Linked DNA regions of Homo sapiens. The protein of the gene in region 3 interacts with the protein of the main gene of each other region in a pairwise test. Each region holds a gene or a part of one and is shown on either strand. Other genes may lie near its edges.

What was found.
Region 1: the proteins of RRP1B (region 3) and H4C6 interact in binary tests that used the Homo sapiens proteins (3 or more experiments, as listed by UniProt).
Region 2: the proteins of RRP1B (region 3) and PPP1CB interact in binary tests that used the Homo sapiens proteins (3 or more experiments, as listed by UniProt).

The regions. Positions count from the first base shown.
Region 1 is NC_000006.12:26,233,985-26,243,725, reverse strand, and holds H4C6 (histone H4), read right to left. Parts: upstream 3,334-9,741; 5' UTR 3,301-3,333; coding exon 2,989-3,300; 3' UTR 2,933-2,988; downstream 1-2,932. Other genes in the region: H1-3 (histone H1.3), read left to right, coding at 8,793-9,458. UniProt on the Homo sapiens protein: Core component of nucleosome. Nucleosomes wrap and compact DNA into chromatin, limiting DNA accessibility to the cellular machineries which require DNA as a template.
Region 2 is NC_000002.12:28,794,258-28,805,829, reverse strand, and holds the end of PPP1CB (serine/threonine-protein phosphatase PP1-beta catalytic subunit), read right to left. Parts: intron 6,632-11,572; coding exon 6,527-6,631; 3' UTR 2,890-6,526; downstream 1-2,889. UniProt on the Homo sapiens protein: Protein phosphatase that associates with over 200 regulatory proteins to form highly specific holoenzymes which dephosphorylate hundreds of biological targets.
Region 3 is NC_000021.9:43,669,507-43,681,467, reverse strand, and holds part of RRP1B (ribosomal RNA processing protein 1 homolog B), read right to left. Parts: intron 11,585-11,961; coding exon 11,502-11,584; intron 9,161-11,501; coding exon 9,103-9,160; intron 7,599-9,102; coding exon 7,513-7,598; intron 6,833-7,512; coding exon 6,771-6,832; intron 6,435-6,770; coding exon 6,305-6,434; intron 5,197-6,304; coding exon 5,132-5,196; intron 4,736-5,131; coding exon 4,554-4,735; intron 1-4,553. UniProt on the Homo sapiens protein: Positively regulates DNA damage-induced apoptosis by acting as a transcriptional coactivator of proapoptotic target genes of the transcriptional activator E2F1.

The DNA.
Region 1 (9,741 bases), on a different chromosome or scaffold from region 3:
CTTAATTTAATAACATTGGAAAGTTACTTTTACCATTTAAGGAAACATATTCGCAGCTTTTGGGATTAAGATGCGGGCATCTGGGGGGGAGGCATTATTGCTACCAGAAGTATAGTAAGGCATAAAACCTTTTAATAGTGTTGTAAAACGACTCCGAATTCCTAAAATACACAAAAGTCCATTAGAAAATAGTTAAAACCCTTTTTGTTTGAAACTCTAAATTCTTAGTTGCCAGCTGACTGGTAATCGCACATTAACTGTGATGTTTAAAGGGATATTGAATAGATATTAGCATTCTTGGGAGGGCTGTAGAACCACGCCTGATGACACTCCCAGGGACAAACTCCAAAGCTGTGCTGCAGAACTAGTCAGGTGCTGGTGTGTCACACCTGTTATTTCTGAATCAGAACTTGACTCACCTGTAACCTATGGCTGCTGCTACTACCAAAAGTTGGCCCATCTGACATCTGTCACAGCAGAAACAGAGGCTTTAGGCAGTCTCTTCTCTCCTGGGTCCCATTTTTGAAGATAAGTCTTTTAAACCTGTGACTCATTGGTGAAGCCTAGGTTACAGATCTGCATTCCAGCTGCAAATGAGGCTGAGTATTGAAGTTCTGAAACCCAGGGAAGTGAGGCAATGTCCTAACCTGAGAATTTGACAAATATATACATTAAATAAATGGACCAGTATCTTTTGAACCTTTTCTCCTTCAAGTTCCAAAGTAAAACCAAAAGTACATCTATTTGAAACTAAAATTTTATGACACAATATTTTTACTTACTAGATGGGATACTTTGATAATTTCTAGTTGTTATATTGGATTCTATTTACGTTTTATATGCTGGTTGGGACCCACTAAATTATTTTCATTACCCGTGAATGGATCTCAATCTGCATTTTAAAAAGTCTGTAATATAAATTGTTGGCAGCCATGAATATTGACATTTGTGTAAAGGTGAATAGAGAAGATGGTTCTGTGGGAGTAGAGATATTGCTTAATTAAAGGGGAATGATTTTTATAACGGTATATTGGTGATGGCCCAGATAGCTTAATTTCATTGATTCCTTCAGTCATTGCACAAACATTTATGAACTAAATACTACATCCTGAGGATACTAAATTAAAGACATTGTTCAAGACCTGAAAATATCTTGGGAAGAGGGCAAGAATTACTCCCAACTATTTAAGTGTGCAGTAGCTCCTAAGTCGTATAGGGAATTCTGAAGTAGGGCTAGGGACATGTGTAGAGTGTGCTTCGTGAATTGTAAGGAAACCCCAGACACCGATTTTGCCCATAGGAATCAGGTAAAGGCTTCTTGAAGAGGAAACCCCAAGTTGAAGAATATTTGTGGAACAGTGTATGTAATGAATTACCATTGACAAAAAAAGAACAGATGAGAAGCCACTTCTTCGGTATGGTGAAAAAATGAAAACGTTAGGAGTCAGGATCGCGGGTGATAACCGGGTAGGTTGACAAAGCACAAGGAGAAACACTTTGGGTTATAAATTACCAGTACTTGAGAAATAAAGCAGTAAAATTATCAATGACCTGAAATCACAGTAAGTGCCCCAACAAAGAATTCACTGGGTAAGACAAAAACTTGGGCTTTTTTTTTTCTTTTTGAGACGGAGCCTTGTTCTGTGCCCCAGGCCTGGAGTGCAGTGGCGCGACCTCGGCTCACTGCAACCTCAGTCTCCCGGGTTCAAGTGATTCTCCTGCCTCAGCCTCCCGAGTAGCTGGGACTACAGGCGCGTGTCACCACGTCTACGTCTAATTTTTGTATTTTTAGTAGAGACGAGGTTTTGCAGTGCTAGCCAGGCTGGTCTCGAACTCGTTGAGCTCAAGTGATCCACCCACCTCGGCCTCCCAAGCTGCTGGAATTACAGATGGGATTGCAGACATGAGCCACCGAGCCCGGCCAAACTTTACTTTTTTTTTTTTTTTTTTGAGGCATGGTCTCTGTCGCCCAGGCAGGAGTGGAGTGGCACCATCTCAGCTCACTGAAATCTCCGCCTCCCGTGCTCAAGCGATTCTCCTGCCTCAGCCCTTGCAGATTAGCTGCGACAGCAGGCGTCCGCCACAACGCCGGGCTAACTTTCCTATTTAACTTTTTTAGTTGAGACGGAGTTTCACCATTTTGGTTGCCCAGGCTAGTCTCGAACTCCTGAGCTCTAGTAATCCGCCCGCCGTGGTCTCCCAAGGTGCTGTGATTCAGGCCTGAGGCACCGCGCCCGGACACAAGTAGTGGATTAAGTTTACCAGTAATTGATCTGTCCACAGCCGCCCTAAGATTACTCACGTTCTATGCCTAATAAATAACACTAAGGCCGGGCACGGTGGCTCACGCCTGCAATCCCTGCACTTTGGGAGGCCAAGAAGGGCGGATCACCTGAGGTCGGGAGTTCGAGACCAGCCAGACCAACACAGAAAAGCCCCTTCTGTACTAAAAATAAAAAATTAGCCAAGCGTGGTGGCGCATGCCTGTAACCCCAGTTACTCGGGAGGTTGAGTCAGGAGAACCGCTTAAACCCGGGAGGGGGTGGTTGCGGTGAGCCGAGATTGCGTCATTGCACTACAGCCTGGACAAGAGCAACTCCATCTCAAAAACTAAACATGTAATGCTAGTGTAGTTAAGTCCCAGCCACCTAACATAGGAGTAAATTTCAGAAACGTGGGAATAAAACACATCACATACGTCATAAAAGGCTGCTGGTATTCCCAAACCATTTCCACCATCTTTTCCTGTGAATGTTTGCGATCGAAATACCTGAACAAGTTTCTAATGTTTCGCCTTCCCTTTCTCCTTAGCACATCCGCCATCTTAGGAAGATCGCTAAAAACGGCTCGGTTTAACTCAGTTAGAATCCCAAATTTACAAAACGAAACCCAAGTCGTCATCAGTTACAGCCCTTCGTGTGACGAAGGAGGTGGCCCTGAAAAGGGCCTTTTATGGGTGAGCTGTTAAATAAAAAGCCGGGGTGAGGCTCAGCCACCAAAGCCGTACAGAGTGCGTCCCTGGCGCTTGAGCGCGTAGACAACATCCATTGCAGTGACTGTCTTACGCTTGGCGTGCTCCGTGTAGGTTACGGCGTCCCGTATCACATTCTCCAGGAACACCTTAAGAACACCGCGGGTCTCCTCATAAATGAGGCCCGAAATGCGTTTCACGCCGCCGCGTCGGGCCAAGCGACGGATGGCGGGCTTCGTGATGCCCTGTATGTTGTCACGCAGCACTTTGCGATGGCGCTTGGCGCCTCCCTTTCCTAAACCTTTACCACCTTTGCCTCTACCAGACATGATCGAAGACAAACAACAACTCTTAACTTTTGCAACTTTGCTACACACTGAAGCCCCTTATATATCAATTATGCGGACCTTTTTGGAGACTGAATTGGAGGGGCGGGAACGAAACCTCTGTCTCCGCCTTTTCCGTAACTTACTGGGCGTCCCCTACACTATTGCCTTGGGAAGGAAAGGGGGCGGTGAGGGTAGGGGAAATGCAAGTTGATTTGACTCCTTCCTGTTTCCTTGTTTGGGTCTTGAGTGTAGGTTTCTGTGTCTTCTAGTCCAGTGCCTGTGGGCTCTCGAACTGATAATGTCTGTCTCCTAAAATCCTTATTATTTGCAAAAAGGAGGCAGTAACGCTACACTTGTCTACCGAATGGATAGACAAGAGAATAAAATTATTATTTCTTTTGAAACAGTTTTGCTCTGCCCCAGACTGGAGTGCAGTGGCGTGATCTCGGCTCACTGCAACCTCCGCCTCTCGGGTTCGAGCGATTCTTCTGCCTCAGCCCCTGCAGTAGCTGCAACTACAGGCGCGCGTCACCACGCCCGGCTAATTTTTGTATTTTTAGTAGAGATGGGGTTTCGCCATGTTGACTAGGCTGGTCTCGAACTCCTGACCTCAGGTGATCCACCCGCCTCGGCCTCCCAAAGTTCTGGGATTACAGGCGCCTAGCTTTAATTTTTAAATGTGAAGATTCTTTGAAAATGTATTTTTACTAATTTTTTTTTTTTGATACGGGGTCTCACTCTGTTGCCCAGGCTGGAGTGCAGTGGCGCTATCTCGGCTCACTGCAACCTCCGCCTTCTGGGTTCAAGCGATTCTCATGCCTCAGCCTCACGAGTAGCTGTGATTTCAGGCACGCGTCGCCACACCTGGGTAATTTTTGTATTTTCTTAGTAAAGACGGGGTTTCGCCATGTTGGCCAGGGTGGTCTCGAACTCCTGACTTCAGGTGATCCACCCACCTTGGCCTCACAAAGTGCTGGGATTACTGGCGTGAGCCACCACGCCCGGCCATTTTTATTAATTCTTAAAATGTAGCAATACTTCTTAAATTTGGCCAATCATGAGACTTAGCGTTTGGCAGAGACATATACATTCACATCGTTTTTGGCATTCCTAATAAAGAAAGACCTCTAGTAAGGGAAACCAATATTAATTGAAGTTTCATTCTTAGTTTTTCAATGTATAATGCAATATCTGAGGTGTAAAGATAAGGAATCCCAGGCTTGAAGACATTATCCTCTAATAAATGGCATTGTATTGTTGGCTCGATTCTGGAGTCTCACTACCTTGCTACCTACCACTGCTTTCATGCCACTAAAGCATACATGGTAAATCATGGTGAATAAAGGTTTGTAAATTAACAAAAATAATACTAATAAATTCTGTGAAATACTGTCCTAATAAAAGATTCCGGAAGAAGTGTTCTACACACAGATCATAGGGTATGTGTAGTAGAAAAATTCAACATTAACTCTTACAGTCTACTGCTTCACATTCATTGCCTCCTATATACTGCAAGGGTAACTTAAAAATCCCGTCTCTGCTGGTGCCTAAAAGCAGTGAGAAGATTATTCATTTTGTGGAGTTAAGAGTCTACTTAAATTTTGGCTTAGGTTCAGTTACCTGTAGGAATAGACACAAGGATCTCAAGTGCTCTCCTTTTTGAGGTAGGCACCAAACAAGCATCATTCATTCATTCAACAATTTAATGTCCACTACATGCCAAGAATAGTGTACAAATACCAGGTTTACAAAGATAATCACATTTATTCTCTTAAAGAACTCAAAAGTTTAGTAAAGGGAAAAGTACACTCAGGGTTAGGGGGCAGATATCAGACCAGCATACTTCTACTTACTGTCAGGTATTTAAGGGCGGAGCAGCCATATCCCAGCTATACTGGCATCACTCTGAAGCTTGTTAGACATACAGAATTTCGGGCCCAACCCCAAATCAATGGAATTGATATTACATTTTTAATGAGATCTCTAAGTGGGTGGTAGGTATGCTCTTCCAAGTTTGAGAATAATTGTTTTAAAGCTCTGCTGTCCTATATTAGCCACTAGCAACATGTGCTCATTTTTATTTAAATTAATTTAAATTAAAAATTAATTTGCACACTTACTCTAGCCACATTACGGTACTCAGTAGCCACATATGGTTAGTGGCTACCTATTGGACAGTGTTAATACAGAATATTTTTATCATCGCAGAAAGTTTTATTGGGCTGTATCTGTGATAAGGGGGTTTCTTCTGAAGAGCTTCTAATCCAGTCTAGAAGGGAGGAGGGAGTTTGGTGGATGCCTGAGACATGTAAAGAGAAAACTGTAAGTTTGAGTATAGTAGTGGCCTTCTTAGGAAATAAAATTAACACAATACTGTTGTACTTGAAGAGGAATTTCAAGGAGCCAGTGTCCTCAGGTAAGACTACCTCATAGACGGTTACAATCGATGTGATTTCTCATGGACTTTTTGAACACGTTTGATTCTAACACAAAGCTTTATTTTCTATAATAGTCTATATATGTTTTCACCCCTTTTAATATTTATTCTATATAGTTTCTTTTTTTTTTTTTGGAAATCTTTAAAATCTGAATTGTGTGATGCTTAAGCACAGTGTCACTGGATTGATCTATTGAATACTACCTACAACTCTCATAGTCATTTACTATGGTGGTGGTGGGGATGGGGGAGTTAACACAAAATGAAGAGAACACTGGGCCTTAAGTTAGATAGCTATCACTTATCTAACTAGTTTTTCCTAGCTACTTTTTGCATCTATAAAATAAATGGTTCCAACCTCAGTGTAATGGGAAATCTACTGTTTTAGATTATATTCAGATTTAGGATTCCAAAGCAACACAGAACTCTTTTTGAGGGCTACCAAAGTAATAGGTGAAACTTTGCAGGACTTCAAGTTTACAGTCCATGGGGTGATCCAGCTTTCAGGAACCTTGTCCTTGCTACAATTACAGAGAAGATAAGTACCAGGTCCCAACTTATGTAGCCTAGCCCCTTTCCTCTTTGAACATCTGGCGAACTTTGTTGGTGAAACTGAGTCTCAGTTATTGCCCTCCAGAAAGAGCAGAGATTAGTTAGCCCAATGCCTTTTTACTTACTGAGATCCTAAGTAGCTATGGGAACCAGTCAGTGTTGCACAAGAATGAAATGGTGGCATCTGTTAATTGACTATATCTAACACGGTGAACAATTCCAACAATTATTCAACAACTATTAAGACTACAATAATGATCAAAATAATAAACAGTAAACAATCTGAATTTTAATTGTACCTTTACGTCTAGGCAATATAAAGCTATGGTCCCAAAAAAAAATACTTAGAGTATGCTTGTGACTATCACTGTTGAAAATGATATCCATAATGATGCACCGCCCCTGCCTCCAGAAACCTATAAAATGCTTCCCTACTGGAATTGTGGGGTCCTACTAATCCAATTCTATAAGTTTAGCTTTTTTATAAACCACATTTGTATTTCAGTGGTGTATAACACGGTCTTAAGTCCCAGAGACTTGTTTCTAATACATGCAAGAGAGTAAATAATTACTTAAGACAAGCTTAGTAATTTTTTTTTTTGAGATGGAATTTCACTCTTGTTGCCCAGGCTGGAGTGCAATGGCACTATCTTGGCTCACTGCAACCTCCGCCTTCCGGGTTCAAGCGATTCTCCTACCTCAGCCTCCCAAGTAGCTGGGATTACAGGCGTGTGCCACCATGCCCGCCTAATTTTTGTATTTTTAGTATAGACAGGGTTTCACCATGTTGGTCAGGCTGGTCTTGAACTCCTGACTCAGGTGGTCTGCCCAGCATGGCCTCACAAAGTGCTGGGATTACAGGCGTGAGCCACTGCGCCTGGCCAAGACAAGCTAAGTAATTTTTATGAAATTAGTTGAATGAGGAGAGATGACATCTTTAAAGTTGATTATTTTATCTAGGATTTATATGAAAAAATCCTCTAATCACTATTGAGTGTAGGCCAGAATAACTTGATTTTTTGAAATGAGTATTTTTGTTAGAAGAAACATAACATCAAACTACTTCTCTTGTTTCTTCAACATAGGAGTTCATTTCAGCATCTGATTACTTGATGGAGAATATCAATTTTGTGCTTAATTATTTAATAATAACCTAATTCCATCAGCTGTATTGCAAACTAACAGATAAAGAATACTGAAGTTACTCATGTTTGCTTTGAAATGTTTGTTCAGCTCCTTAGGTGGACATATTCAACCAATTAATTTAGGGTGTGACAGCTTAGTTCATATTTTGTGTGTAAAAAGCCAAGTAGAATGATGAAAATTTACAGTGATTTAAATCAGATATTTTTCTTTCTAACCCTTGATGCCCACACTTGCAATGTTGAAAATTTGTATTTTATTTTTTTAAAGTGACTTTTACCAGTTATTCAAACAGGTTGTACAGAGAAAGAGGAAGGGAAATTTGTATTATAAATATGATTTTAAAATATAAAAAATGTACAAAATTCTATGATGAATATTAGCAAAAAAATAGTGTATTTCATTAAATTATTTATAAAGTGATGGGACACAAACATGTACACAAGCTCTCAATGCTCACAGTTGCCAAAATGATGTTGGCCTGCCATTCTATTATTTGTTGGTTCAGTTTTCTTTTTTGGGGATGTGGTAGTTGATCTTTAATGCCCATTCTAGATCGGAAAAATCCATGATCCTAACTTTTAAGAGAAGGTTGGTAACTCTACTTAGGACTTTTTTTTCTGTAAGAGGAATAATGTAGCCTCACCCTTATCTTTCTGGAAATGTTTAAACCACTGAAATATGGAGATCAAATCCAGCTTACACACTGGTAACTCAAATACTATTTTTTTTTTTAAACTATCTTTTCTAAACTAATCACCCCTCTTGTACATAGAACTTTCTACCTCAGTGCCAATTCCTAGAGGTTGATGCAAACAGCTCGCCAGAGAGCCTGTGCTATTGTTCCTGCGAAAAAACCCAATTTCCCTGCACATTTGGATAAAAATGAGTTTATCTATATAAAGTTGAGACGGTAAGAATTCACAGAACAATGCCCTGGAAGAGAGATTTGCAAATGAAAGAGGGAGAAATAGTATTTTTAAGGAAAACATGAAAGTTGTCTCGATTTGACCGAAGTTTGAAAGAGAGTTGGGGGAATAAGAAAAGTTTCAAGATGCCGGTTTTAAAACTATGCATAGAAACAAAGGCAGGAATGAAGCCCGAACTCTCTCGGATCAGTTTCCCCCAAGTCTCTAATTATTTCATGCCCAGATTTCTTATATTTTTACTCTTTTTTAAGGGGCAACAAACACAGCAGCGCGGTAGATACGAGGAGTCCTTTTCCAGCAGCGCCGCGCATGGAGCAAGGAACCAATCATCACTCAGCGTCTCTCTATATAAACCCTCAGCCTCCCTCGTAGAGGACATGCTGTTCTGACAGTTTGAGATTACTTATTGTCTTTTCTGGGAAGACAAAAACATGTCGGAGACTGCTCCACTTGCTCCTACCATTCCTGCACCCGCAGAAAAAACACCTGTGAAGAAAAAGGCGAAGAAGGCAGGCGCAACTGCTGGGAAACGCAAAGCATCCGGACCCCCAGTATCTGAGCTTATCACCAAGGCAGTGGCAGCTTCTAAGGAGCGCAGCGGCGTTTCTCTGGCCGCGCTTAAGAAAGCGCTTGCGGCTGCTGGCTACGATGTAGAAAAAAACAACAGCCGTATCAAGCTTGGCCTCAAGAGCTTGGTGAGCAAAGGTACTCTGGTGCAGACCAAAGGTACCGGTGCTTCTGGCTCCTTCAAACTCAACAAGAAAGCGGCTTCCGGGGAAGGCAAACCCAAGGCCAAAAAGGCTGGCGCAGCCAAGCCTAGGAAGCCTGCTGGGGCAGCCAAGAAGCCCAAGAAGGTGGCTGGCGCCGCTACCCCGAAGAAAAGCATCAAAAAGACTCCTAAGAAGGTAAAGAAGCCAGCAACCGCTGCTGGGACCAAGAAAGTGGCCAAGAGTGCGAAAAAGGTGAAAACACCTCAGCCAAAAAAAGCTGCCAAGAGTCCAGCTAAGGCCAAAGCCCCTAAGCCCAAGGCGGCCAAGCCTAAGTCGGGGAAGCCGAAGGTTACAAAGGCAAAGAAGGCAGCTCCGAAGAAAAAGTGAAACTGGCGGGACGTTCCCCTTTGAAAATTTTAAACGGCTCTTTTCAGAGCCACCCACAGGTCTCAGTCAAAAGAGCTGAAGCTTTTTGGAGGGGGGAGTGGGGTGGAGAGGGGTGCGGGTGCTGCGGTGTTGTGCGGCCACGGTCTATCCTAGTCGTGCTGGTTGGGGGTCAGTTATTAACAGCTCCCAGCAGCCTGGGCGCAAGGATCCTTCCGTCTCAGTCTCAGCCACAGTCACCGGATAGCTAAGGCTACTTGAGCCACCAGGTCCTACTTTTTCTTCA
Region 2 (11,572 bases), on a different chromosome or scaffold from region 3:
TTCATTAAGCAAGTATCTGCAGGCCTCCTATGTGGCAGGCGCCACTCTACGATAAGGAGATACGAATCAGTGAACAAAAGAGAAAAAAAATACCTGCATGGGCGCAATGGCTCATGCCTGTAATCCCAACACTTTGCGAGGCTGAGGTGGGCGGATCACTTGAGCTCAGGAGTTGGAGACCATCCTAGGGAACATGGTAAAACCCCCCACTCTACAAAAATTAGCAGGTATGGTGGCACATGCCTGTAGTCCCACCTACTACGCAGGCTAAGGTGGAAGGATGGCTTGAGCCCAGGAGGTTGCAGTGAGCTGAGATTGTGCCACTGTGCTCCAGCCTGGGCACCATAGCAAGACCCTGTCTCAAAAAAAAAAAAACAAAAAACCCTGCCCATAGAGCTACATTCTAGTCACATACAAGACTGATCTAGGCCTTATGACTTTTAAAGACAAATGTAACAAAGTTTTTTTTTTTTTTTTGAGACGGAGTTTCCCTTGTTGCCCAGGCTGGAGTGCAATGGTGCCATCTTGGATCACTGCAATCTCCACCTCCCAGGTTCAAGTGATTCTCCTGCCCCAGCCTCCCGAGGAGCTGGGACTACAGGTGCGCACCACATCTAGCTAATTTTTGTATTTTTTTTTTAGTAGAGACGGGGTTTCACCATGTTGGCCAGGATGGTTTCGATCTCTTAACCTCGTGATCGGCCCGCCTCGGCCTCCCAAAGTGCTGGGATTACAGGCATGAGCCACCGCGCCTGGCCGACAAATACAACAAAGTTTTAAAGGAGCATTCAACATCCTAATGGATCTGTATAAGAAATAATTGATGATATATTAAAAATAAAATGGGCTGGGCATGATGGCTCATGCCTATAATTCTCCCAGCACTTTGGGAGGCCAAGGCGGCAGGATCACTTGAGCCTGGGAGGCTGAGGCTTCAGTGAGCTGTGATCAGGCTACTGCACTCCAGCCTGGGCGAGAGAGTGAGACCCTGTCTCAAAAAAAAAAAAAAAAAAGGGATTACAACTTGTGTTGTCAGTGAGCATACCCAGAGTTTGGGGAATTCACTAAAAGAAGATTAGGGTCTTCCACTCAAAACAGGCTTTACAGTACAGCAATAAAGACTTTTTAACCTGTTCTTTAATATGACCAATAGAATTAATTTCAGTGGAATTATCAAGCTGCAGTTAAGAGATGTGCTACAAAATCTGAGGCAATTACACTGGGAGGCAGAGATCTGTGTTTCTAAAATTTTTTTTTTTTTTTTTTTGAGATGGAGTCTCGCTCTGTCGCCCAGGCTGGAGTGCAGTGGCGTGATCTCAGCTCACTGCAAGCTCCACCTCCCGGATTCACGCCATTCTCCTGCCTCAGCCTCCCAAGTAGCTGGGACTACAGGCGCCCGCCACCACGCCCAGCTAATTTTTTATGTTTTTAGTAGAGACAGGGTTTCACCATGTTCGCCAGGATGGTCTCGATCTCCTGACATCATGATCTGCCTGCCTCAGCCTCCCAAAGTGCTGGGATTACAGGCATGAGCCGCTGCGCCCGGCTAAAATTTCTTATTGAAGTCAGGTAACAGTTTTATGTGCTGGGCCCAGTTATATGTTGGATCCTGAGCCTCACCCAAGATTTCCTGATAATCTCAATTCCTTATTACATGTGATAAACTACATTTCCTAATATGTAGCTTAATTTTTAAGTTGGTAAATTGAGTAGTTATGAGTTCTACAAGACATTAAGTTTTCTCCAGCAACTCCACCCTGCACATCCTCCTTCTCAGGGATTTTTATTAAACTAAGAGCTAGAGAGACAAAGTTTATATTTATTCAAGAATGGAACAGGTGTCAGTCTGTCAATAACCTGCTGGTAAACAGCAGCACTGTCAGAAACCATGCCAATTATCAGTTTGAGTTATACATATATTGGAGGTAGCATTTCAACACTCTGGTTTTGTTTCTTTGGCTTTTTTTTTTTCCAAAAAATATACTAGGAGATTTAAGACTTACTTCAGATTAAACTTGTTACATTAAGAAAACACTCTTGGCCGGGAGAGGTGGCTCACGCCTGTAATCCCAGCACTTTGGGAGGCCGAGGCAGGCAGATCATGAGGTCAGGAATTAGAGACCAGCCTGGCCAACATGGTGAAACCCCGTCTCTACTAAAAATACAAAAATTAGCTGGGTGTGGTGGCAGGCTCCTGTAATCCCAACTACTCAGGAGGCTGAGGCTGGAGAATCGCTTGAACCTGGGAGGTGGAGGTTGCAGTGAGCCAAGATCATGCCATTGCACTCCAGCCTGGGAGACAAGAGCAAGACTCTCTCTCAAAAAAAAAAAAAAGAAAAAAAGAAAAAAAGAAACTCCTCTGGACTACTTTTTTCTGTTGCACTGTATTACTTGCCTTTGTGGTTTTGTCGAGAATCAGTGTTTACATGATAGACCATAAATTACTGTGCCTTTTAATAAATTTGTACAATAATCTATGAAAGTTCTAGATGTTTAGCTGTGATGTCACTGGTTTTGTAGGAAAAATTTGGCCTGTAAATCTGCTGAATCATTCTGATTAGGCAGCTGTAAAAATTAATACATATTTTAACTTGCCGATCCTATGCCAGGCTTCACTGAAAAGCCTCCAGGAACAGACCTTAGGTTCCCACCTTTTTGCATATAGTATCTGAAAGGAATGCTGAACCTATTAGCCTCAGGCCGTTAGTTTGTTCTCTCTTACACACACACACACACACACACACACACACAAACCCTCCCCACCCGCACCCCCTGTTCACTTGCTATCTTCCACCCTGTATACCCCAAACAATGTGGTGTTGTAAGTAAGATTTCATAATCACATAAACTAGCAAAGATCCCTAAGAGGAAAGAAGCAAAGATTTATGGTCATTTTTGTAAAAATAAGGTTTAATAAAACATCAGCAATCTGCATGAGAAGGTAAATTACAATGAGAAACTTAAAAAGCTTACGGTCTAAGTCAACCAATGTAGAAGGTAGTGGTTGAAGAAAACAAGCTTTGACTTTTAAAATTTCCTAACCAGGGGATTTATTTAGAAATTCTGGCATTCAAATGTACATGTAAAATCCAATTTAACAGATCAAAATTGTTACACTAAGTTTCACTTAGTATCTAAGTATCCAATCACAATTGTATCTAAGTTTCACTTTTAAGAAACATTATAAAGGTAATTAAAACTCTAGGTGTATACTTATATGGAACTAGTTTATTTCCTATTTAACTACTGTTCATTGCGTAAAGTATGTTGTCCCAATTTTCAGCTGTTTTAAGGAATTATAAAACATTGAGATCTACTAGGAAGAGGGAAAGCCTACTTCTAAGTGATGCCACTAGTACAATCAGGCTTGGATTAAGTCTCTTCTCAGGGGCAGCTTTGATTTAGCCATGGACTCACAAGGAAAACAAGAGGTGGATTTGGTTAGGGAGCAACAGCAAATTCAGCCCGACCATATTCCTAATCTAAACACATTTTCAGCATAAAGATGTAAAAACAATTTTTTTTGGTTCAAAAGTTATGGTTGCCATGGAGACAAAAAGAATATACCTGAATTTATAAACTGAGATATATTTCAGCTCCTTGGCTTAAAATAATACATCTTTATATTCTTGAGACATATCTCAAGATGTTCCTTGCTTTGCCTTGAATAAAAATTTTTTTGAAAAGCCTATGTTTCTCGTGAACACACTCATACTTCAAATTTACCACCTATTTTAAGCTTTAAAATTCTTCTTGCCAGCATTTTTCAGCTAAAAAAAATCATTTCACGAATGTTTAGGTACTTTTTACAATGAAGGGATATGGCAGCATGGATACTGGGTAGCTGGCTAGGCTCTAAATACCTGATGACTCAACGCTTTGCACAAACCAGTCTTGCTGATTATTAAAATTTGTCCCTGGGCAAAATTAAAGCAATGCATGTTAAGGCTTCAAATGCAAAGGATTCACTGTAGTTGATTCTTTCAAGAATAGAAATCGACCATAACTTTGCTTTATAATCCATGTGATACACCACATTATAACAGATATCTACTGTGTTTCATGATTTCTGAATGTCATAACATTTGGATTAAATTGTATACAAAAAAATCACTAACCTGAAAAAAATCAGAGGAAAGAACAATATAAATTAGTGACACTGGAATTACAGAATCATTTTCTCCTAAGAAACAAAGTTTTATTTATTTCAAGTCGTGTTGCCAAGCAAATATTTGTAAAGAACACATTTTTATGACTGGAGGCTGTTTAAGTGGTTTTAAGAGTGCTTGAATAATTTTTAAACATGATAAATTTCCATCCTTTAAATTTAATGACCAATATTAATTAGCTTAAGTAGTGATTATTTTTTCACATTTAGTCTTTAAAAAAAAAAAAAAGGATTCCTATTAACCAACATACTTAGTCTTGACCTGGATGAATTTACAAAAGCCAGACAATGGGATACAGATTAATGTGGTTTAATACTGAGATTAATCAACATTGCCCTTTTTCCCTGCCAAAGGCTTATTTTCTAGACCTGCTTCACTATGACTACTAAAAGTGTACAACTAAAATTTTATTAGAAATCGCTCAGCTTACACACTCCAATCAGGAAGTTATTTAAATCACCTCAGATAAAACCTTTGTGACCTAACCTAATACATCATATGCAGATCATGAATACTTTCAGAAAAGAATCATTTCAATATGTCAAGGACATAGTATCTATGTGAATAAAATGTGTGCTTAAATGTCTCACTGTAAGGAAAAAAAAAATCAGTCAGGCTTCATATCAATTAGACAACTTTTACTAAATGAGAAAACTACATTTAAAATGTGCTTTAAAACAAAACGGAATTAGAAAAAAAGACATATGCATTTTAAAGAACTTTTGCACTGTGCTGAAAATGAAATATCTCTTGCAGTAAGTAATACAATGTGCCAATTCATAAAATGTAAGTTAACAGGTTTCTCAATTTAACATTTTCAAAGACGATATTAAGGTCAAAAATGTCACATCTATGGTAGCACATATAGAAGGGCATTATAGATATGATGTCCATCCCTATGAAGCTTACAAATTTGACAATGCTCAATAAAAGCTTTTAGAATCACATCCAATAGTGTCACAGTCAAAGAATCACAAATCTGTGTCCTGTAAGTTCTCTCCTTCTAAAATCTTCATGTTAACTTTTCTACTCATTGCCATTTGTTAATACTAACCCTTAAAAAAAAGAAATAGGAAAAGAAAGGCTGCAATAAACTTGATCAGGTACAGAAATTATTGCTACTATACTTCACTACAAAGCTTGTCTATACAGTATCATATGACCTTTGATTATGAAAAAATCAGAATAAAAATCTTTAGTGACATAAGCCTTACAATCGTATACAACATTCACATGGCAATATTAGACAGTTAAGCACCCAATACCCATAGTTGACAAAATGTCCCACTGACCAGCATTCATTTAAATACATCCTTCGTATAGAGGGAGGAAAAAGAGACAGTGTCAGCTTTCCAAGGCTTGTCAAAAAAGGATTCTCATGTACTGTGGATCTAAAAACAAACAACAACTCAAAAAAAAAAAAAAAAAAAAAAAGAAAGAAAAAAGAAAAAGAAAACCAATGCAGGTGAAGGTGTTACCAGGAAGTTAAGCATGCCAAAAGGTGTTCCGTGCGAATGAAAACCTAAAGCCAAGGTACCACATAATCACATTACCAACTAGTTGGGTAATACTATATGAGCCTTATCTTAAATGAAATGCTACTGCACAATAGAGCATCAATAAGTTAAAAATTAGAGTGCACAAATCCAAATCAGTGTCAATTCCTGTATAAAGCAAAATATTCACTATCAGCTGTAAAGTTTGCCCAGTCAAACTGTATGATTAAAATCACTGGATTGGACAATGTGCGTATTTTTTTTTAAAACAATCAATCTCTAAAATTCCTTTTTAATGTAATGAGGCGAAAGTTTTCTTAGTAAGATTAAACAGATATCTAAGTAGATAAACAAGGGAAAATAATAGTTGGTGAATGTCTGTAAAGCTCTTCCCATATTTCACTTTTAAAAATGTTTAGGGAAAAAAATTAGAAGTATTTGCCATTATTCTAGTGAAAACAAACAAAAACAAAACAAGCTCAAAATAATTAAACAACCAAGCAACACTAAAACCACATTACACAGATGGATCATCATGCTTTCATCTGGTTTAACTATCACATCTAGTTTAACTGGGATGCTTTTCAACTTTAAAAATTGTGATACATGAAGATGTAACTTTAATGGATAATTTTGAATTTGGATTTAACTTTGTTGACTATAACAGAGTATACTTATTACAATACAGTGTAGCACATCTTTCTATTAGAAAAAAATTTAAGATCCTTTACCCGTCTCCTTAAGTTAAAGGTGTGACATCATAAAGGGTGTCAAATGGCTGGATGGTTTTACAGTGCACACTTATATATTATGAAGTATGTCCTTAACAAATCTGATGGTTTCTTTACAGAATTCCTTTCTTCACCTTTTCTTCGGCGGATTAGCTGTTCGAGGTGGAGTGACAGGACGTCCAGAATTCAGTCCACCATACTGGTATTTAGCTTTCTTTTCAGATGGTTTCAATATCTTAAAGTAAATTATTAACAAATAATGTTATTTTTTCATGTACAGAAGTTAAGAAAATTGTTACAATTGTGATTTTCAATAAATGGCATAAACTGCAAAAATGCAATAAAAATGTAGAATAGCAAAGTTCCATAAACATTTCTTAAAGTGTGCAAATGTCTGAACTTTGTCATTCCACTCATATTTTAATAACAAAAGTACACTAACTCTATCAACTATCCAATCCTTAGATTTAAGTAAAAAACTTTTTGAACTTAGTGTATCTCTGTTGTGAGGAAAAGAACACTGGTTTAAGAGTCAGAAGATCTATGTTGTCATCATAATTCTGATACAGTAACTTAGGAGGGTAACTAACCTACAAGTCACAAACCCTTCAGACCTTATTTATTTATGTATAAATAGATCTTTTTACTTAAAAAACAGCTTTATTGATATAAATCTAATTTTAGAACATTTGTCACCCCAAAAAGAAAGCTTGTTCCCATCAGCAGTCACTCCCCATTCCTGCTCTCCACATCCTCTAACTCTAACCAACTACTAATCTACTATGTGTCTCTATAGAATTGCCTATTCTGAACATTTCATATAACTGGCATCATATAATATGTGGTCTTTTGTGACTGGCTTCTTTCACTCAGGTTTTCAAAACCAGTTTTGAAGTATCAGTCCTTCATTCCTTTTTATTGCTGAGTTGTACATTGTACAGTCCATTGTATGGATGTACCACAGTTTATCTATTCAGTAGCTGATGGACATCTGAATTGTGTGACTTTTTCGGCTATAAGGAATAATGCACATTTATGTAACAGTTTTTGTGTGAACATGTTTTCATATATCTTGGGTATATACCTAGAGGTAAAACTGCTGCATCATATGAGAACTCTATTCCCACCATTAATGTATGAAGATTCTAATGCCTCCAAATCCTTGCCAAAACTTGATACAGTCTGGCTTTTTTACTACACTCATTCTGGTGGATGTAAATAGAGCTTTAACCTACATTATACATAAAAAAGTCATGATTTTCCAAAACTAAAACAGTATAGAAATATGTACAAAGTATTTTTTAAAAACTATTTAGAACATAATAGTGCCTTAGTGAAGAGAATATATTAATCCAACACCACTATGACAACTGCTGGAAGGATAAGGTATGGTTACTATATTTAATTTGTAAATGAGCAATCAACCATTTACCATTCAATTGTACTAATTGATGGAAACAGTATATTATGATAAAGAGAAAGAGGAATGGGAAAGCCCCAATGCATTTTAAGAGAAATACAGTGTGTGTACATCAAAGACATAGAATAGCCTTTGCAAAAGCAAAGTACTGAAGCTGTTTTACTCAGTGAACAAGAATGATTTGTAGGAGCACACTAAAGCTAAAACTGGCCTCTTTTAAAAATGTAAATGTTGAAACCAAAAGTTGGTTCTTCAAAAGAATAAACAAGATAGACTGCTAGCTAGATTAAGAAAAGATCCAAATAAGCACAATCTGAAATGAGAAAGGTGACATTACAACCAACCCCACAGACATACAAAATACCTAGAGATTATAAACACCTGTGCACACAAACTAGGAAACCTAGAATAAATGAATACATTCACAAAAACACACATGCGCTCCCAAGAAATGAATTCATAGAAACACACATGACCTCCTAAGAAATGAATAAATTCATAGAAACACACACAAACTCCGAAGACTGAACCAGGAGGAAATTAAAATCCTGAACAGAACAATAACAAGTTCCAAAACTGAATCAGTAATAAAAAAACCTATAAACCAAAAAAAGCCCTGGCCCAGAAAGATTCACAGCTGAATTATATCAGATGTACAAAGAGCTAGTACCAATCCTACTGAAACTATTCCAAACAATCCAGGAAGAGGACCTCCCCCCTAACTCAGTCTACGAAGTGAGCATCATTGTAATACCAAAACCTAGCAGAGGCACAAGGAAAAAAGAAAACCTCAGGCCAATATCCCTGATGAACACAGATGCAAAATCGTCAACAAAATACTAAAACCGAATCCAGCAACACATCAAAAAGTTAACTCACCACAATCAAGAAGGGTTTATTCCTGGGGTGCAAGGTTTCAACATATGCAAATCAATAAATGTGATTCACCTCATAAAATTAAAAACAAACACCATATGATCATCTCAATAGATGCAGAAAGGCTTTCAATACAATTCAACACCCTTTCATGTTAAAAACCCTCAACAAATTAGGCACTGAAAAATTAGGAACATACCTCAAAATAGTAAGAGCCATCTGACAAACCCACAGCCAACATCGTACTGAAAAGGGAAATGCTGGAAGCATTCCCCTTGAGAACTGGAACAAGAGACTAGGATGACCATTCTCACCACCCCTATTCAACAGAGTACTGAAAGTCCCTGCCAGAGTAATCAGGCAAGATAAAGAAATAAAAGGCATCCAAATAAGAAGAGAGGAAGATAAACAATCTTTACTGACGATAATGATTCTATACACAGAAAACCCCATAGACTCCGCCAAAACGTGCCTGGAACTGATGAACAACTTTGTTAATCAGTTTCAGGATACAAAATCAATGTATAAAAACCAGTAGCATTTCTATACATCAAAAACATCCAAGCTGAGAGCCAAATCAAGAACTGCATTTACAATAGCCACAAAAAGAATATCAAGGAATACAGCTAACCAGGGAGGTGAAAGATCTCTACAACTACAAAGCACTGCTGAAAGAAATCAGAGGTGATGCAAACAAATGGAAAAACATTCCATGCTCATGGATAGAAGAATCAATATTGTTAAAATCTCCATACTGCCCAAAGTAGTTTACAGATTCAATGCTCTTCTTATCAAACTACCAATGTCATTTTTCACAGCATTAGAAAAGAACTTTTCTAAAATTCATATGAAATTGAAAAAGAGCCCGAATAGCCAAAGCATCCTAAGCAAAAAGAACAAAGCCAGAAGCGTCACACTACCAAACTTCAAGGTACATTATAAGGCTTACAGTAACCAAAACAGCATGGTACTGGTACCAAAACAGACATATAAACCAATGGAACAGGATGGAGGAGCCAGAAATAAAGCTGTACTCCTGCAACCATCTGATCTTGAACAAAGTCAACAATAACAAGCAATGGAGAAGAGACTGCCTATTTGATAAATGGTGCTAAGATAACTGGCTAGCCATATGCAGAAGACTGAAACTGGACCCCTTTCACCATACACAAAAATTAACTCAAGATGGATTAAAGATTTAAATATAAGACCTCACACTATAAAAACCCTAGAAGAAAACCTAGGAAATACCATTCTGGACACTGTCCTTGGGAAATAATTTATGACCAAGTCCCCAAAAGCAACTGCAACCAAAACAATGATTGACAAGTGGGACCAAAATAAACTAAAGAGCTTCTGCACAGCAAAATAAACTATCAACAGAATAAACAGACAACCTATAGAATGAGAGAAAATACAAACTATGCATCCAACAAAGGTCTAATATCCAGACTCTATAAGGCATTTAATTCAACAATCAAAAAACAACCCCATTAAAAATGGGCAAAGGACATGAACAGACACTTCTCAAAAAACAAACGTGCAGCCAACAAATATATGAAAAAATGCTCATCATCACTATTAATGTAAATCAAACCACAAGATACTGTCTCACACCAGTCAGAATGGCCATTAATAAAAAGTTAAAAGATAATAGATGTCAGCAAGGTTGTGGAGAAAAAGGAATGTTCAAACATTGCTGGTGGGAGTGTAAATTAGTTCAGCCACCGTGGAAAGCAGTGTGTAGATTTCTCAAAGAACTTAAAACAACCACCATTCGACCCAGCAATCCCACTACTTTGGGTATGTACAAAAAAAGACAAGCACTTGTATGTTAATCACAGCACTATTCACAATAGCAAAGACATGTAATCAACCTAGATGTCCATCAACAGTGAACTGGATAAAGAAAATGTGGTACATATACACCATGGAATACTATGCGACCATAAAATTAAGGAAGGAAATCAGGTCCTTTGCAGCAACATGGATGCAGCTGGAGGCCTTTATCCTAAGCCAATTAATGCAGGAAGAGAAAATCAAATACCACATATTCTCACTCATAAGCAGGAGCTAAACACTGGGTAAACATGGACATAAAGATGGCAACAATAGACACTGGGGACTACTAGAGTGGAAAGGGTGAGGGGGAATGTGAAATGAAAAACTCTATGCTCACTACCTGGGAGATAAGATCATTCATACACCAAACCTCAGCAATATGTAATTTACACATGGAACAAACCTGCACATGTAACCCCTGAACCTAGTACGTACATAAATTAATAAAAATATTATAATAAAAGTGAGCAAACAACCCCCCGTACATGGTATACAATGTGCTTCCTCAAAAGAAAAAAATAAATAAATAAATGTTCCTGTGACATAAACGGGTAGTTTAGTATTATTTTGAAAGTTTTTTTTCCTCAGGAAACTATTTTTTTTTGGGGGCCAAGTCTCGCTCTGTCGCCCAGGCTAGCGTGCAGTGGTGCAATCTCGGCTCACTGCAACCTCTGCCTCCCGGGTTCACGACATTCTCCTGCCTCAGCCTCCCAAGTAGCTGGGACTATAGGTGCATGCTACCACGCCCGGCTAATTTTTTTGTATTTTTAGTAGAGATGGGGTTTCACAGTGTTAGCCAGGACGGTCTTGATCACCTGACCTCATGATCCGCCCACCTCAGCCTCCCGAAGTGCTGGGATTACAGGAGTGAGCCACCGTGCCCAGCCAGGGAACTATTTTACTTTATTTTCATCTGAGTTTGTAATTCTTTTCCCAGTGTCTGTTCCACCCATTTACTTTGCAAAAGAAAACAAAAGCCTAAACTATTCATTACATTCACATTCTTTTAGTAAGCCACTATTCAAAAGGTCATAGAGG
Region 3 (11,961 bases):
AGGAGAATTGCTTGAACCCGGGAGGCAGAGGTTGCAGTGAGCTGAGATTGCGCCATTGCACTCCAGCCTGGGCGACAAGAGCGAAACTCCATCTCAAAAAAAAAAAAAAATTACTTCCCGTCCACCAGGTCTAAAAATTAAAAAGAAAAAAAAGGTTCTTGATTCTATCTATCTATCTATCTATCTATCTATCTATCTATCTATCTGTTTATTTATTTATTTTTTGAGACAGTGTTTTGCTTGGTTGCCCAGGCTGGAGTGCAGTGGCACGATCTTGGCTCACTTCAGCCTCCACCTCCTGGGTTCAAGTGATTCTCTCCCACCTCAGCCTCCCAAGTAGCTGGGACTATAGGCGACCGCCACCATACCTGGCTAATTTTTGTACTTTTTGGTAGAGACTTGGTTTCACCATGTTGGCCAGGCTGGTCTCGAACTCCTGACCTCAAGTTATCCGACTGCCTGGGCTTCCCAGAGTGCTGGGATTATAGGCATGAGCCACTGCAACCGGCTTGATTTTTTCTGATTAAATATAATATATAATCACTGTAGGAAATAGAGAAGTACAAAGGAAACAGAAATCACCCATAATTCTGCCACCTACAGCTAACTATACTAACATTTTGGGCTAGGTGTGGTGGCTCATGCCTTTAATCCCAGCACTTTGGGAGGCTGAGGTGGGTGGAATGCTTAAGCCTAACAGTTTAAGACCAGCCTGGGCAATATAGTGAGACCCCTGTCTCTACAAAAAATAAAGAGGTGTGTGCTTGTGGTCCCAGCTACTTGGGAGGCTGAAGTGCGAGGATCACTTGAGCCCAAGAGGTTGAGGCCGCAATAAACCATGACTGCTCCACTGCACTGCAGCCTGGGCAACAGAGCAAGACACTGTCTCTCTTTTTTTTTTTTTGAGATGGCGTCTCCCTCTGTCGCCCAGGCTGGAGTGCAGTGGCTCGATCTCTGCTCACTGCAACCTCCGCCTCCCAGGTTCAAGTGATTCTCCTGCCTCAGCCTCCTGAGTAGCTGGGGTTACAGGCATGTGCCACCATGCCTGGCTAATTTTTTTTTTTGTATTTTTAGTAGAGACAGGGTTTGAGCATGTTGGTCAGGCTGGTCTCGAACTCCTGACCTCGTAATCCACCTGTCTCCGCCTCCCAAAGTGCTGGGATTACGGGCCTGGGCCACCGCGCCCGGCCGACCCTGTCTCTAAATAAATAAATAAAACATTTTGGTTTATCCTTCCAGATTTTTTAAAAGCACGAACAATCCTAGCCAGAGCAATCACAGAAAAGAAATAAACGGCATCCAAACTGGTAAAGAGGAAGTCAAAGTCCGTGTTTGCCGATGATACAATCATATACCTAGAAAACCCTAAACACTCACCCAAAAAGCTCCTAGAATGGTAAATGAATTCAGCAAAGTTTCAGGATACAAAACCAATTTACATGAATCAGTATGATGGCTATACACCAACAACGACCAAGCTGAGAATCATATCAAGAACTTACTCCCTTCTACAACAGCTGCAAAAAAACCCCTACCAAAACAACAATGACAACAAAAAACAAAACAAACAACAAAACCTCAAAAACCTTAGGAATATACCTAACCAAGGATGTGAAAGATCTCTACAAGGAAAACTACAAAACACTGCTGAAAGAAGTCACTGATGACACAAACAAATGGAAATACAGAAGCACATCCCATGCTCACGGATGGGTAGAATCAATATTGTGAAAACGACCATACTGGCAAAAGCAATCTACAGATTCAACACAATGCCCATAAAAATACCATCATCATTCTTCACAGAACTAGAAAAAACAATCCTAAAATTCATATGGAATCAAAAAAGAGCCTGCATAGCCAAAGCAAGACTAAGCAAAAAGAATAAATCTAGAGGCTGGGAGTAGTGGCTCATGCCTGTAATCCCGGCACTTTGGGAGGCTGAAGCTGGTGGATCACTTGAGGTCAGGAGTTCGAGATCAGCCTGGCCAACATGGTGAAACCCCATCTCTACTAAAAATACAAAGACATATTAGCTGGGCGTGGTGGCACCCGCCTATAATTCCAGCTACTAGGGAGGTTGAGGCATGAGAATCGCTTGAACATGGGAGGCAGAGGTTGCAGTGAGCTGAGATCGCACTATTGCACTCCAGCCTGGGCGACAGAGCAAGACTCTGTCTCTCTCCCCTCCCCGCCGCCAAAAAAAACCCAAAACACCAAAACACCAAAAAAAAAAAGACACACAAAAAAACAAAAAACCCTCAAAAACCCGGAGACATCAGAACACTCGATTTCAAACTATACTATAAAGCCATAGTCACCATAATGGCATGGTACTGGTACTGGTATAAAAATAGGCATGTAGACCAATGGAACAGGAGAACCCAGAAATAAACCCAAATACTTACACTCAACTGATCCTCAACCAAGCAAACAAAAACGAAGTGGGGAAAGGACACCCTATTCAAAAATGGTGCTGGGGTAATTGTCAAGAAGAATGAAACTGGATCCTCATCTCTCACCTTATAGAAAAACCAACTCAAGATGGATTAAAGACTTAAATATAAGACCTGAAACCATACAAATTGTAGAAGATAGCATTAGAAAAACTCTTCCAGATGTCGGCTTAGGTAAAGAGTTCATGACCAAGAACCTAAAAGTGAATGCAATGAAAACAGAAACAGCTGTGACTTAATTAAACTAAAAAGCTTCTGCACAGCAAAAGAAATAATCAGCAGAATAAACAAACAAAATGGGAGAAAAGATTTGCCAATTATGCAGCCAACAAAGGACTAATATCCAGAATCTACAAGGAACTCAAACAAATCAGCAAGAAAAAAACAATCCCATCAAAAAGTGGGCTAAGGAAATGAACAGACAGTTCTCAAAAGAAGATATACAAATGGTCAACAAACACACGGAAATGCAAATGAAAACCATAATCAGATACCACCTCACTCCAGCAAGAATGGCCATAATTTAAAAAATCAAAGAATAATAGATGTTGGTGGCCGGGCGCGGTGGCTCATGCCTGTAATCCCTGCACTTTGGGAGGCCGAGGTGGGTGATCACCTGAGGTCAGGAGGTTGAGACCACCCTGGCCAACATGATCAAACCCCATCTCTACTAAAATGCAAAAAATTAGCTGGGCCTGGTGGCAGGTGTCTGTAATCCCAGTTACTCAGGAGGCTGAGGCAAGAGAATTGCTTGAACCTGGGAGGTGGAGGCTGCAGTGAACTGAGATGGCACCACTGCACTCCAGCCTGGGTGACAAGAAGCAAAACTCCATCTCAAAAAAAAAAGATGTTGGCACAGATGTGGTGAACAGGGAAGACTTCTACACTGCTGGTGGGAATGTCAACTAGTACAACCACTGTGGAAAACAGTGTGGAGATTCCTTAAAGAACTAAAAGTAGATCCACCATTTGATCCAGCAGTTCCACTGCAGGGTATCTACCAAGAGGAAAAGAAGCCACTATATGAAAAAGACACTTGCATACGCTTGTTTATAGCAGCACAATCCACAGCTGCAAAAACATGGAACCGGCCTGAATGCCCATTGACCAATGAGTGGACAAAGAAAATGCGGAATATACACCGTGAATACTACTCAGCCATAAAAAGGAATGAAATAATGGTATCCACAGCAACCTGGCTAGAGTTGGAGACCATTATTCTAAGTGAAGTAACTCAGGAATGGAAAACCAAACATTTTATGTTCTCACTTAAAATAAAAGCACAAATAAACGTTTAAAAACAAATCAGATGCACAACTATTATATAGCCATAATAATTAAAGAAAACCCAAACAACAAATCAGACTCCTTCTATGTAGAGTTTGTACCCTGCTTTAAAAAATATATATATATGTCTGTCACATTTCCTTTGGTCCTTAGTTTTTAGGAGCTTTGCTTTTAAATGGGTATACAACACTTCAAAAGCATGGGTAAGCTGTGATCTAACCATTTCCCTTATTTTGTGCATTCAGATGCCATAAAGCACTGTGGTGAGAGTTTGGATGGGCCTGCAACTTCAAATGCACATTCTACATTAAGTCCAGACACAAAACAGTAGTAAGAATTATGTCAGTACACAGTAGGCATTTAAACATCCCAAGAAAAAGAAAAACATTCCCTGAAGGAAGCCATGAGTTGAGAAAGGACAGCCACAGAAACAAGCGTACGTCCCTCGAGTAACCCGTAGAAATGAGGCCATGCATGCTAAGGTGTTAGCGTGTCAAACAAAAAACAACAAAGCAAACAAAAAGCACTAGCAGTGACAATGGTAAAATCCTCGAGGAGAGTCCTGAGATCCTGAGAGGTACAGAAATGTGTGTATGCCACATGGGACAGATCTCAGGTCTCCCCAGAGCCCCGCTAGGCACCCCCCAGGCACAATGAACCCACCTCTGCTGCCTTTCTTGGGAGGGGCTGAGGCAGAGCCATCAACTCTAGGTTGCATTCAGTAAGATGCCAACAAATGTATTAAAAACTGTTTGTCTGAGGAGGATTTTAGCAGAAAGAAAGCTACACTGACCAAGAACATCCTCCTACCTGTCTTCTTTTTACTGACAGCTCTTCTCAAGGATACCTCATTTTCAGGTATCTCCTCAGCAGAGAGGTCACCATCACCCACTTTTGTCTTCTGTTCCTCCATCGTCTCTTCAGGCACAAAAGGAGACTGATCTACGATAGCTTCGAAGACACCCCGAGCTATGGTCTGTACCAGGGTGTGGCTGAGGGTAGAAGCACAGCGGAGAGCATGTGATGAGAACAAACGGCCTGGCCTTCTGGCTTCAGGGGCACAGAGGGAAGCCCTGCACACGTTGCTGTGGTCTGGAGTGGCCCCCACGGGCCAGCAAGCATCTGAGAGGAACTGCCTAAGTGCCACCCGACAGGCACGGGACGCCCAGCGGTCAGATCTTTGGGTGTGGGAGGGCATTCCTGGAATGAGTGAGGCAAATACTGAAGCTAGAAGAGCCAAATCACTGCTCAAAGCTTCGGCTGTCTTCTCCAGCCGCTCTCTGCTGTGAAGCAGTGTCCTGGGTACCCTGTGCCAGGCTGCACGACGGCAAGTAACTCCCATGAGCAAATGCCACGGAGCAGGAGGAACGAACAGGGGAATCACTTACTCCTTCGTCTTCGCAGCAATTTTGCAGAATGGATCGATAAACTTGAGATTCTGATCTGCTAAAAGCTGTAATTTAGAAAAAGGGAAAAATTGAGAAAGAGCCTTTCCCTTCTTGACATGTCCTTGAAAAAGGGACCATTCCCATCTTTTACAAAGGTGGAGTTAGACCAAGCAATGCCTGTCTCACACAGCCCCAAAGCGCCCCTGTGGAATGCCACAGAAGCCTGGAGCCAGGCTGAAGACTGAGGCCGCCCTCCAGCTACTTGGTATCTTAGTGCAGTGGCTGGAGAAAGCCACCCAGCCTGACCTGCACTATCCTATATGCCCAACATATACAACACGGGTGTCCAATCTTGTGACTTCCCCAAGCCATAATGGAAGAATAACTGTCTTGGGGCACACCTAAAATACACAAACACTAACAACAGCTGATGAGCTAAAAATAAAATAAAATAAAATAAAATAAAATAAAATAAAATAAAATAAAATAAAATGCAAAATACCCCTCATATTTTAAGAAAGTTTATAAATTTGTGTTGGGCCACATTCAAAGCTGCCCTGGGCCCCATGCAGCTCTCAGGCTGCGGGCTGGACAAACCTGATACAGGACATACATATACTTCCTCTACAAGAGGGGTAACAGGGACAGTGCCTCCAAGTGTGAGACAAAAGAATTATTGTTTTGAATATAACATATTTTCTTTTAATCAAAAAAATACATGTTCCCTGCAAAACACCTGTGAAAGAAAAGTAAAATCTGTGCACATTCCCACATTCAGAGAATCATTTGCATACTAAAAAATGTATGTTTCCTTTCCAGCCTTTTGTCTATTTATGAGTATATACCTTAAAAATGTCTACCATTTGCATAGCTTTTCCTAGCGCTTTATAAAGCTCCCTAGATCCTGAGTACTCCCCCGTGTTAGTGAGTTCTTTAGTGGAGTCTGTAGGTTGCTTTCAATTCCGTTTTACAGGTAAGACTGTCATGTACATCCTCAGTGCACAAATCCCATCCCACCAGCTGCTTAGGACACATTCCCAGACAGGACTGAAGCAATTCACGCTGCTACAGTCGCTGGTCATGCGAAGGGCCACCCCACAGCACTTCACTGGCGACTACTGCGAACACTGGCGGCCCCCTCACCCCGTGGGCAGCCTGTCGGCAGCTGCTTACCTCCTTCCCCCCGACTTTGGAGAGTTCATCCAGGTAAATATCAATGAAGTGGAATCTCACTCCATTAGGAGACTGACTCTCAGGACACAGGACCTCCTTCATCAGGACATCCAAGAAAACCTTGATTCGGCTAAAGAACCAAACGCATGCTTCTGTGAATGACAGTATGCCAACACGTCCCACTTCCCAAAGAGAAACAAAAATACTCCGTCTAGAACCTACACAGCCTAACAATCAATGCAAGGCTGAAATCATTTTACAAGGAAAAAAGCAATCACTTAAATCAGGATAAAATGTTAACTGTCATATATACTTAACTGTTTTATGCCTTCTACTGGATTTCAATTCTCTATAGGTAACGATGTATCGAGCTTCTCATTGGTACTCTACAAGTTCAGAAAACTTGACACTCTACTACCTTTTAAGTTTTAAGGCTACCACATGCTAACTCAAATGGTTTACTGACCTTTCTTCCCAGCCATTTCGCTTCAAGACTTCAAAGGACTGCCTCAGGACCAGACGAATCAGCTAAAGAAAGGCAATTTTTGTTTAAAAAAAAAAAAAAAAAAAAAAAAAAGGAAAGGTAAGAAATATTAATCAGCTCAGCAGAATGAAGGGACCAATGAAATTGTTATGGCCTGGATCCCAAAAGTAAAAAAATATTCACAACAGTCATATTTACCTTCTAGATCAAAAAACATATTCATAGCCAAGAACAGTGGCTCATGCCTGTAACCCCAGCATTTTGGGAGGCTGAGGTGGGCAGATCATTTGAGGCCAGGAGTTCAAGACCACCCTGGCCAACATGGCAAACCCTTATCTCTACTAAAAATACAAAAATTAGCCAAGCATGGTGGTGCGCGTCTGTAATCCCAGCTACTCAGGAGGCCGAGGCATGAGAATCACTTGAACCCAGGAGGCGGAGGTCGCAGTGAGCTGAGATCGCACCACTGCACTCCAACCTGGGGAGCAGAGCAAGAGAGACTCTGTCTCAAAAAATACCCAACGTATTCACTAATGCTCCCCAAACTCATCCTTAAGAACTGCAAAAGCCAAAACAGAGAAGCTTTCCAGGACACATTCAAATTCTTCCTTCACACTAAGCCTGTGGCTTGTTTTGCTTCACAAATAAACCTTCCCATTGTTTTTAAGATAAAGGACATTCTTTTCTTCCCAGGAGTTTTTGAAGTAACTGCGGCAGATCTTACCATATAGTATTTGTCCAGGCGTAGCCTGTCTATTCCTTTCCATTCTCGATTCATGGTTTGCCAAAAGGTCTGAATGAACAGGTGTTCTGCAGTGAACAAAAGGCTCTAAATACTTGGCTTCCACATCAACATACTACCATATAGCAAGAAAATAATGAAGAGGAACAAACTAGCATTATTTATTATTCACTTTTCTCAGTAATTCTTGGGCAGCTAGAAAATCTGTTGATAATTAAATATACTCAATCATTTCTTTTACACTTATTTATTAAACATCACTTAGACTGTGCAGATCTTTTACTTTTTTTTTTTTTTTTTTTTGGAGACGGGGTCCCACTCTGTGGCCCAGGCTGGAGTGCAATGGCATGATCTCAGCTCATTGCAACCTCTGCCTCCTGGGTTCAAGTGATTCTCCTGCCTCAGCCTCCCGAGTAGCTGGGATTACAGGTGTGCACCACCACACCCGGCTAATATTTGTATTTTTAGTAAAGACGGGGTTTAACCATGTTGGCCAGGCTGGTCTCAAACTCCTGACCTCAGGTGTTCCACCCACCTCGGCCTCCCAAAGTGCTGGGATTACAGGCGTGAGCCACCGTGCCTGGCCTTGGTCTTTTGAATTTAAATAAAAACAGAATAACCGGAAGGGCTGGCAACATTGCAATGTCAGATTTGAGCGCTCTCTGGAGCATTTTTCCTTTATCCACTGCAAAGCCACGTTTCTTTTAAAATCAAGACTCCTTGTTCCACTTCTAGTAACTCTTCCTACTGCACTGGTACCTCACAATCAGTTCAAAACCATTAATTCTGACACTTATATAATCCATATAGAAACTCATATTTTTGTCTGATTATAGGTGGCATCTGGGTGAGCTACGGTACAAAACACTGAATTTTTCTCTTCTGACCCACAGAACTAGCACTTTTTTATTCAAAAACAATTTTTGTTGATTTTTTGGCTTTATTTCTTTTTGCACAATTCTTTTTTCATCTTTGTAAATCTATTATACATCATATGTAGAATTTTGTTCAATATGAGTCAGCTAATATTCAGAGCACCACTGGGGGTGGTTGAAATCATTAGGATGCTTTTCTGAAGAGCATTAAGCAGAACAAACGAAGTCGGCTACCTTTTTCTTCCTTTATAAGCAATCAACGCCTGACACAGAAGCACCCTAACTAATTTTTTTTCTCTATGGTTGAGAGGAGTTACTTCATAGTCTGTGACCGGTGGTGTCTTCTATGTATTTATTACCAGTGACGGCTCTGCTCTTGGGGAAGACGAACCTGGCATCCAGAGGTCACCGTGGACCCTGCATCTGGCTCTCCAGGCTCCAAGTGTTAAAGTAACTCAGAATTTGAAGATTCTGGAGGATTGTTATTTCTAAAAGCATTTTCTGAAATCTTTGAGATGTCAAATTGATTCTCCCCAAGACACTGTGCCCTCTCACCAAGTCAATGACTAAGTTTATCACAGCTTTTAAAAACAGGAATGGCTTGTCCCCTGACATCTACACAATACCGGCACAAGGTTCCCATTAAACTAGCAAGTCGGAAAACTTGGAAGGAAGGAGAAGAAACAACAGGACTTACGAGCCGCTGAGTTGTTAACAGCATGGACTAGCTGTGCAATGGTGTTGGCGAGCTCTTCCTGCAGAGGCGGGGTTGGGGAGAAACATGGGGGTTATCGTGGGGCAACATGAGATGCCTGTGCCGCGGCCTGCTTCCTTCTCCCACTTCCGCTCGTGGGAAGGTCTGCCCCTCTTGTCACTTCCACTAAGAAGTATGTATCCGAATATCTGAATTTTATCAAATGTGTAAGTTCCAATATTGACGGACTATTATGCTAACTTGGTATGTCTGCAAGAACTGTGTTAAGCTACATGTTTAAAAAAGCATCTCTAATTATCAGTTCAGATGAACTAGAGATGAAATAAATTAGTTATCAGTTCCTGGCTTTATAACTATATCTGGCCACGTGCAGTGGCTCATGCCTGTAATCCTAGCACTTTGGGAGGCCGAGGCAGGTGGATCACCTGAGGTCAGGAGTTCAAGACCAGCCTGACCAAGATGGCACTCCCCACATCTCTACTAAAAATTCAAAAATTAGTCAGGCGTGGTGGCGTGTGCCTGTAGTTCCAGCTACTCGAGAGGCTGAGACAGAATTGCTTGAACTCGGAGGTAGAGGGTGCAGTGAGCCAAGATCATGCCATTGCACTCCAGCCTGGGTGACAGAGCTAGACTCCATCTCAAAACAACAACAACAACCAAAAAACCCCCATCTAAGCTGGGCTGGGCAGCTCATGCCTGTAATGGGAGCCCGAGCACTTTGGGAGGCCGAGGCGGGTGGATCGCTCGAGTCCAGGAGTTCAACGCCAGCCTAGGCAACACAATGAGACCCAGTCCCTACAAAAAATACAAAAATTAGCCAGGCATGGAGGCGTGCACCTGTAGTCCCAGCTACTCGGGTGGCTGAGGCAGGAGGATCAGCTGAGCAATAGGGAGGTTGGGGCTGTAGTGAGCCATGATGGCACCCCTGCACTTCAGCCTGGGCAACAGAGTGAAACTCTGTAAAAAAAAAAAAAAAAAAAGAAAACTTCATCATAATCCCAGAAATGATGTGAAACACAAAGACAGCAGGGCAGACCTCACAGAGGTGAGATGCTGGGGATGCTCACTGCACGCCATGGGAAAGTCCTCCCTACAGCTTGCTCAGAGACAAGGTGGAATGTGAAGGTAAACTCAGCCTTCTGGGCTCTGTCCTGGGTGAAGGGGTCCCTGAGAGAGCATGCCCTGCTGAGGTGCAGCAGGCTCACTCTGGGGAGACGCCCTCTCTTCTGAGGTTCCGTGAGAAAAGCACACTCCTCATCAGTCTGACTCACACCACACCCGGTCTGTTTTCCTTCGTGGGAAAATGAGATTTCTGTCCATTGGTTTTCTTCCTCCACTAAAGCTGTTGGTTGTTACTTTTGAATGTAATATAAAAATATTTTGCCCTGCTCCTACTCAAAATATGTTCAGTAAAATAAAAATAAATTAAAACAAGTTATTACGCAGCACGGGAGAAGTGGCAAGGCTGCACATTAAAACCCAGAAAAGTAAAATCTTGCCCTGAGGACCTGTCATCTGCATCAGAGACTTGCAAGCACTTCTCAAGGCTGGTTCCTCTACCTCAGGGGTGTCCAGTCTTTTGCCTTCCCTGGGTCACACTGGAAGAACTGTCTTGGGCCACACACAGTATACACTAACACTAGTAATAGTGAAGAGCTTAAAAAAAAAAATCTCATAAGGTCCTAAGAAAGTTTCCGAATTTGTGTTGGGCTGCATTCAAAGCCATCCTGGGCCACATGTGGCTGTGGGTTGGACAAGCCTGCTCTCCCTCTACAGAGGCAGATCGGATCTACTTTCATGGGTCAGAACAAAGCTTTTAAAAAGTGAAAGTCACATCTTTAGTGTTGGCTTTGGTGGTGGGCTTAGCGGGCTCAGCAGGCCCCGCACAGAGAGACCGAGCCTGCTGCGCGTTTGGGTGACTGCGCAGGCGCACTCGGCTTTAACAGGGAGGCTTTCGCTGAGCGCTACTGCTGCTCTCCATGGAACCCGAAGCCCAGTGACGCGGCTGCCCTCTCCTGGGTTTCACAGGGTCTTGACTAGTTAGTGCTCCTGTCATGCCATCCTTGACCACAAAAAATAAACTTACCAGAAGAGAGAAACTTTAAGTAATGTAAAACCTAGCATGGAACCTATGAAATTTTACAGAGAAATAGTAAATTGACAACGAATGCACATCTTTCCTTTTATTTGAAAAGACAATTCACCTAACTGTGTTGACCCTGCATCCCTTTCTGTATGGACAAGAGGTACGAAAATGACTCCTTGAAGCATGACTGTCAGTGTGCGTCAGTGTATCGGGGGACTGGCACAGCATGAGTGATCAAGTCTCTTATCCATCCACAGCAAGAACCCGGGAGCATGACAAAGGGAACGCATGTTACCTGTAGAAGGGGTTCATCCTGCACCCACATGCAGTAGAAGAGCCCCTTCCAGATTTTCAGAAGTTCTTCCTGACTGAAACCTCCTGGAAGGCAAAACAATACAAACATCTTAGAGTCTATGCATCTCTTTTCTTCAAGTTTAGAAAGTGGTGAAGTATCACATACATTTTAATTCTCTTTCGTTTGCACGTCTTTTTAAAAAATTGAAGCAAACATTTCCTTATTGTTATAAAAGAAACACAAATAAATTACTACTGTACCTGCAGCTTTATCAGCTACAGGGTAGGGTGGCAGTGGTGGCCCGGCCTCAGCGTGAGGAAGCAAATGTCATCACAACACAAAATTCATGAACAAAGTGGCCACTTATGAAATCGGCTCCTCATCAACGCCCTCCCCGCCCACCACGTGCAGCCATCCTGCACACTGACATTTTCGCTGGTCTTGTGAAGTAAAACTGCAA